2 linked regions of the Homo sapiens genome follow. The protein of the gene in region 1 purifies or fractionates together with the protein of each later gene. This does not show direct contact. Each region holds a gene or a part of one and is shown in the gene's direction. Other genes may lie near its edges.

Region 1 (3,818 bases):
TGACAAGGGGTGCTGGGCGTGGTGGTTCATGCCTGTAATCCCAGCACTTTGGGAGGCCAAGGTGGGCAGATCACCTGAGGCCAGGAGTTCAAGACCAGCCTGGCCAACATGGCAACATCCTGTCTCTATTAAAAATACAAAAATTAGCTGAGCATGGTGGCAGGTGCCAGTAGTCCCAGCTACCCAGCTACTTGGGAGATTAAGGCAGGAGAACCGCTTGAATCTGGGAGGCGGAGCTTGCGATGAGCCAAGATCACACCACTTTACTCCAGCCTGGGCAACAGAGCTAGACTCTGTCTCAAAAAATAATAATAATAATAATTGTTAGGGGATAGGACTATATAAGAAACTTTAACTTTCCAAGTCACACATTTTTGTAAAACTAATATTTTAACATTGTACATTTGTTTCTTTGTCATAAGGGAAAGTTAAAAAAAATATTTTTAGGAGAACTCTTGCCTAGCCGAACCCACAGTTAAGAATAAAAATGAGCTCTGCCAAGTTGTTGAGGAAGGTCAGTGACCCCACTTAGCTGTTGACCTTGCCCTGAAACTGCTGAGCAGTAGGAGCAAGCTGGCAGCTGTGACCAACTGTGTGGGCCGTGGAGTCCAGGCCCTTCTGGGTGGGTGGTGTCTGTCCACAGCTACTTCTTTCTCCGGGGAGGGGTCTTCTGGAGCTGAAGCTGGAGCCAGGGAAGACCCCAGGGAATCGTTGCGGAATAGGTGGTGGGAGTCACTCCCTGCTGCTGGGGCGCCCTGTGGACTGCCCCTACCTCCATAAAGATACCTCTAACCTGGCTGCCGGGGCCTGAGCCACACAGACCTGAGCTGCAGGAGGTTCTGAGAATTCTGTGGACTGGGAGTGGAGAGGGGAGGGGTCAGCCATGTCTGGAAGAGTTTCATAAGCATATTTATTTTCTTTGCGAGCCTAACGACACCACAAACAAACACAACAACAATAACAGCAGAACTGCAATCAGCCCAGTCCCATACTGGGCTTACCCATGTGAGGGCAGGACCCTGCATCTGCCTGTGCCATGTGGGCAAATGGATCTCTGTTAAAATCTCACCTGCCCACCTTCTCCATCGCAGAGCCAATCTCAGCTGATGCTGCAGGATCCTGCTGTCAGAGGCTCAGACACTGCTTAGGTGGAAGAAGCCCTGGATTGTTGTCTCCAGGGACTGGGGCAGGATGCGGGGGCCAGAGCAGGGTGCAGAGACTGCCATAATGAACCCCAAAGGCCTGGAGCCTGTGGGTAATGGCCTGGCGTGCACCTCCTGCCCACTAGGTGGCGCTGTCTCTCAGCAAATGCTCCAGGCTGCTTTAGGTGTTCCCTGAGCCAGAGGAGGCTCCATCTACCCCGGGACTCCTCTAGCAGGGGGTCTGAGGCAGACCCTCCAACGGACAGCACCCGACCTTGGTCCTGAGGGTCTGGCCGCCACCTTTAGCCCTGCACATGCTTCCCCTCCAGGGCTGGATGGGTCTGGTACCTGGGGCACTGCTCCCTTACTTGAGGCCCAGGGAGGGGGCCGTGGGCACCCCTTTACCCCCTACCCTTCGATTCCTTCCTCGGTCACATTTGTTGAGTATCTATGGGGAGCCAGGCAGGTGCTGGAGACCCTGGGGTGGGGGCCTCCCCTTACGGGCTCACCAGGTGGTTCCAGCAGAGGCCCCAGTGGCCCCCCAGTTCCCAGCCTGCCTGGCCTCTGCTGGGCTGAGACCACCAATGACAGCCTCCTTTCCCTCCCTTGTCCTTCACGTCACCCCTCACTGGCTGTTTCCCACTCCCTTCCCTCAATCAGGGCTGTCATCCTCCAGGGTTGCCCCCTCTCTTCTCCCTGTTCCACACGCAGTGCTGTGATCTCAACAGAGAACATAGCCAGCTGACTGTTGGCCAGCATCACCACAGCCACCCATGCCCAGCTGACATGGATTTTCCACCTGTGCTCTGCCCTGACCAATGCCCAGCAAGTACACGGCGCCCGAGGACTCAGCCTCGACTCCTCTCTTCCTCAGGAACCTAATGGGTTACTGAGTCCATCCTAAGGCTCCCCAGACCTGCTTCATTCTCTCCCTCTCATTTCCAGCCCCCTCTTGGACTGAGCCCATATTCACTCTTGTCTCACAGCTTCAGATCACTCCTATCTGGCATCTCGACTTCCCATCTTGCCCCCTCAGGTCTGCTCTCTACCCCCACAGCTGGAGAGACTTTTGGAGGCTTAGAGTGACATTAGTGGGTCTCTACTCGACTTTTTTTTTTTTTTTTGAGAAGGAGTTTTGTTCTGTCACCCAGGCTGGAGTGCAGTGGCGTGATCTCGGCTCACTGCAGCCCCCACCTTCCCAGTTCAAGCAATTCTCCTGCCTCAGCCTCCCGAGTAGCTGGGGTTACAGGCTCCCGCCACCACACCCAGCTGATTAGAGACGGGGTTTCACCATGTTGCCCGGGCTGGTCTCAAACTCCTGACTTCAGGTGATCCATACACCTTGGCCTCCCAAAGTGCTGGGATTACAGGCGGGAGCCACCATGCCCAGCCTCCACCCAACTTAAAATCATTCAGTGGCTCCCCACTGCCTTGAGGATAAAATCCAGCCCCTTTAGCTTGGTGAGCAAGACCTGACCTCACACTGTAAAGGGCCATAGTGAATGGCCATGTTCATGCCTTTCTGCCACTGCATTTGCCTCTTGGCCGCCAGGAACCAGCCTTCACCCCCACCTTACTCCCCTGCCCCCTGCAACCTGGGCCAGGCCCTCCTGTCACATGTGCATGTACCTCAGCTGTGCTACACCCACACTGTCTCCTAATCCATCTATTGACCGGGCTCTGAGCTCCTTGAGCTTGGAACTGTGGCTTCCATCTTATTGTTTGTCATGTTTGGACAAATAAATGAACTGGGTTCTAGTCCCCAAGGGTGTCTAAGCAGACCTGGAAACCAGAGAGACTTGGCTTTGAACCAGAGGAAGTCAGTACTTCTCAGGAAGGTCGCCCTGCTGGGAAGGGGCAGCTGCAGGAATGGGGAGGTCCAGAGCTTCCTGAAGCAGGCCTGTGGAGTGCTGAGTCCAGGCTTCTCTCATGGTCAGTGTGGCTCCCTCTAATGCGTAGTGATTTTTTTCCCAGTTATAGAATTGTGCATAGTCATTTTAAAAAACTGGGGAAAGGGAGAAAGAGCAGAAAAGTTTGAAATATTGAATCCTACTGCATAGCTGTAATCACTCTTACCCTTTGTTAAGTTCCCTGTCATCCTTTCACAAACATGCATACATCTGTAGCACAAGGCTGGGACCATAAACATTTTAATACCTGTTTTTTTTTCTTGTTGTTTTTTTGTTTTGTTTTGTTTTTTGAGACAGAGTCTCGCTCTGTCACCCAGGCTGGAGTGCAATGGTGCGGTCTCGGCTCACTGCAAACTCCACCTCCCGGGTTCATGCCATTCTCCTGCCTCAGCTTCCTGAGTAGCTGGGACTACAGGCGCCCGCCACCACGCCTGGCTAATTTTTTATATATTTTTTTAGTAGAGACGGGGTTTCACCGTGTTAGCCAGGATGGTCTCAATCTCCTGACCTCGTGATCCACCTGCTTCGGCCCCCCAAAGTGCTGGGATTACAGGCGTGAGCCACCGCGCCCGGCCTTAATACCCATTTTTAACATCCATTTTTTACGCATGATAATTTCACTGTGTTCTTAAATAATTTCCAATAAAACTTTTTTTTTTTTTTTTGAGACAGAGTCTCACTCTGTTGCCCAGGCTGGAGTGCAGTGGTGCTATCTTGGCTCACTGCAACCTCCACCTCACAGGTTCAAGCAATTCTCTTGCCTTAG
Region 2 (3,818 bases), on another chromosome or scaffold:
AATGGCAACAATGTCAAACGTGAGGCTTGGGGCTCTTGGCACCCACAGGTCCTGCTTGGGGATTGCTCCTGGGCCAGAGACCATCAAAGGACCATCAAAGCTCCAAGGTGGTCATGTGTTCATGGAGACTGTGATCCAGTGTCTTAGGCCGAGTTACTTGGGAAGCAAATCTTAAGGCCATGACTGGGTGTAAATTGTTTATCTGGGAGGTGATCCCAGGAAGCCCCAGGAGCAATGACCCACTGCGGGGTAAGTGTGGAACACATCCCAGAGTTGGAGAAGCTGAGGGTGAAGGAGCTGGGGTATTTATACACCCGCTGTCCGTGGTGTTGACTGGGGGCTGCCCCTGGAGTTATTACCTCTCTGGCACTTTCTGGCCTGCCATGTGTCCTGGCCAGTAGAAATCCATCAGCATGAAGAAAACAGTGAGTAATTGTGGTGACATGGATGGCCACTGACACTGGATGCTGCTGACAGCCAGAGAAGCCAGATTAACTGAATCTGGAAGAGGAGGGAGAGGTCCTGTGAGGGGCATAAAAAATGCCTCTGGAATGGCCATGCAGAGGATTGCAAGTCCTGGGCCTGAGTCCTTCTCTGAACCAGCCCCATGCTGGGGCTTGGAAACACCAAGGAGAGGCAGACACAGCCTCCAGTGTCAGCAAAGGTCTCAGCGAATGGGGAAGACATATGCATGAACAAAAAAAGTACAGCCAGGTGTAAGTGATACACAGCAGCTCTGAACAGGGAGCAATTACCTCTGCTAGGAGGGGTTTCTGAGAGAGCATCTGATTACCTTCTGCTTGGCTTCCTGAGGGATGAGTAGGAGTTTTCTAGGCAGGCAAGGGCAGGAGAAGGATCTTGAGCAAAGGCATAAAGAAAAAGCATGTCCGGCCGGGCCCGGTGGTTCACGCCTCTAATCCCAGCACTTTGTGAGGCCGAGGCAGGTGGATCACCTGAGGTCAGGAGTTTGAGACCAGCCTGGCCAATATGGTGAAACCCCGTCTCTACTAAAAATACCAAAATTAGCTGGGCGTGGTGGCAGGTGCCTGTAATCCCAGCTACTTGGAAGGCTGAGGCAGGAGAATCGCTTGAACCTGGGAGGTGGAAGTTGTAGTGAGCGGAGGTCGTGCCATTGCACTCCAATCTGGGTACCAAGAGCAATATTCTGTCTCAAGAACAAAGAAAAAGCCTGTCCTTAAGGACCTGTGGGTAGAACCACTAGTGACGCTCTTAAGAGCAGGACCATAGTTGATCCATTCTATGTCCCAAACGCTGGAAATAGGGCCAGGCACACAGCCAGGGTTGTGGGTGTGGCCATGAGGCTGCTGAGATGAAATGGGGAGCAGCTGAAGACAGACACCAGGCCCAGCCGCTGTCTTGATGACCTCAGAAATATCACTTGTCGAGGCCATGGGCCCCTCATCTATAAAATGGGTGTCATCCTGGTACTACCTTGCATAGTTGCTGTGCAGATCATGTGCCACACACATGCTTGGCCCAGAGCAGGCACTCACCATCCTTTTTCCTTACGCAGCCTCTGGATTATGAATACATCCAGCAATACAGCTTCATCGTCGAGGCCACAGACCCCACCATCGACCTCCGATACATGAGCCCTCCCGCGGGAAACAGAGCCCAGGTCATTATCAACATCACAGATGTGGACGAGCCCCCCATTTTCCAGCAGCCTTTCTACCACTTCCAGCTGAAGGAAAACCAGAAGAAGCCTCTGATTGGCACAGTGCTGGCCATGGACCCTGATGCGGCTAGGCATAGCATTGGGTAAGGGGGCGTGTGTCGATGAGAATGATAAGGACAATCCGGCCTGGATGTTCCTATGCCTGCTGGTCTGAGGCCAGGACTCAGAGAGGGGAACTGGCTTCTCCTAGCACTTACAGGGAAAGTGACAGAGGCAAGACCAGAAGCCCAAGCTCTTGCACTTGGCAGCCTGGCATCTTGACCTGCCTGGACTCCCCCACCTAGCATGGTCCTGGGCATCCAGAGCTACTTGTCCTCTGTCCGGCCTTGAAGGCTTATTCTCTGCACCACAGCTCTCACCAGTCCTATGTGGTAAGATCTGACAGTCAAGAAAGCAACCAATCAGACGACACACCAGAGGCCCCTTCACTAAAACTGTATTCTTGAATCTATCTTCCCCAAACCACAAAAGTAAGAAGTGTTCATTTTATACAGTGAAACAACACAGAGATCTACCAAGAAAACACTGATAACCCCCACTCTCAGATAACTCATGTTCGTGGCCTAACCTGGTCCTATTGCTCCTTTCTTTTCGTGACCACACAAACATGTGGATGCATTTATGGTGGGTTTGTTGTTGTCTGTTTGCTTTTGATGTTTGATTGTTTTAAAATTTTTTTGGATCATGCCATGCTGGTTTCATCGATATTTGCTCTTCTATCTTAACTAAATTTCTCTTTTACAATCTTTAGAAAAAAATGATATAGTTCCAACAGATACTTTTTAGAGCCATATAATATGCAATAGTAAGTATAAATTCAATTCAATCTTATTTTATTGTAGATGCATAGCTGATTTTGCCAGCACCATTTACTAAATATTATAATAATAAGTCATCGTTTTCCCACCTTCATTATATACTAAGTTTTCTGTATATACCTGTATCTACTTCTAATTCTCTGTCCTATCCATCATTCTATAGCAAAGCTATTCTGTTTTATTCTACTAGCTTGTATAAGTCCATTCTCCTATAAAGAAATAGTTAAGACTGGGTAATTTATAAAGAAAAGAGGTTTAACAGGAAGTATAGTGGCTTCTCCTTCTGGGGAGGCCTCAGAAAACTTACAGTCCTGGGGAAGCAGGCACGTCTTACACGGCCAGAACAGGAGTGGGAAGGGAGTTGTTACACACTTTTCAACAACCTGGTCTCATGATAACTCACTAGCTTGAGAACAGAACCTAGGGGATGGAGCTAACCCATTCATGAGAACTCTGTCCCATGGTCTATCCACCTCCCACCAGGGCCCACCTCCAACACTGGGGATTACATTTCAACATGAGATTCGGTGGGGACACAGATCCAAACCATATAGCTTTACACTAGATCTTAGATATACATAAAAGTCCTTCCCATGTTGCTTTTTTATTTGATATAATTTTTTGTCAACTCTCATTTTTTCTTTTGTGAAATTTAAAATTTTGTATCCAGGTTTTTTAAACATTAGAATTCTAGTGTTTATATATTAATTTTGGTATAGCTAATGTTTCAAGGGTATTAAGTCTTCTTATTAAGGACAAAATATGTTCTTCCATTTTGGCCTCATATCCTAAGTTTTGGGACTACTCTTCATTGCCATTCTTTTCTAAATAGCCTGTAATTATAATTTTTGTTTCTCCTTTGATCCAAGGGTTTATTTAAGAGATTGACTTGATTTCTTTATTTTCATTTATAAGTCATAGGGTGTTTTTTTTGTTTTGCTTTAGCTTGTTCTGTGATGTGATACAATTGTATTTGTGTCCACTTCTTCCTAGAATATCTAAGTTTTGACTTTATGTATTTAAATTTTTCTATTCAGTTAACAAAGGTTTGCAACTATTTTACCTTCATTATGGTTTGTAACTTTCATCCAAATGTAATTAGCCAATTTGTTCTGCTTAAATATTTTGCCTTTAATTCTGTTTCCTGATGTTACATTTGTTAGTCCTGTTTTCATGTTATTCATATACGCCTAATGCAAATTTTACAACCTTTACTTTTAATTTTTCCAGGTCATTTGGCATTAAGTTGTCTCTTGAAAACAAGAATGCATTTGGCTTTGCTTTTTAATCTAAACTGAAAT

What was found.
Region 2: the proteins of CTNNBIP1 (region 1) and CDH5 purify together in Homo sapiens (co-immunoprecipitation; one study listed by IntAct). This does not show direct contact.

The regions. Positions count from the first base shown.
Region 1 is NC_000001.11:9,865,128-9,868,945, reverse strand, and holds part of CTNNBIP1 (beta-catenin-interacting protein 1), read left to right. Parts: intron 1-3,818. UniProt on the Homo sapiens protein: Prevents the interaction between CTNNB1 and TCF family members, and acts as a negative regulator of the Wnt signaling pathway.
Region 2 is NC_000016.10:66,390,602-66,394,419, forward strand, and holds part of CDH5 (cadherin-5 preproprotein), read left to right. Parts: intron 1-1,534; coding exon 1,535-1,782; intron 1,783-3,818. UniProt on the Homo sapiens protein: Cadherins are calcium-dependent cell adhesion proteins. They preferentially interact with themselves in a homophilic manner in connecting cells; cadherins may thus contribute to the sorting of heterogeneous cell types.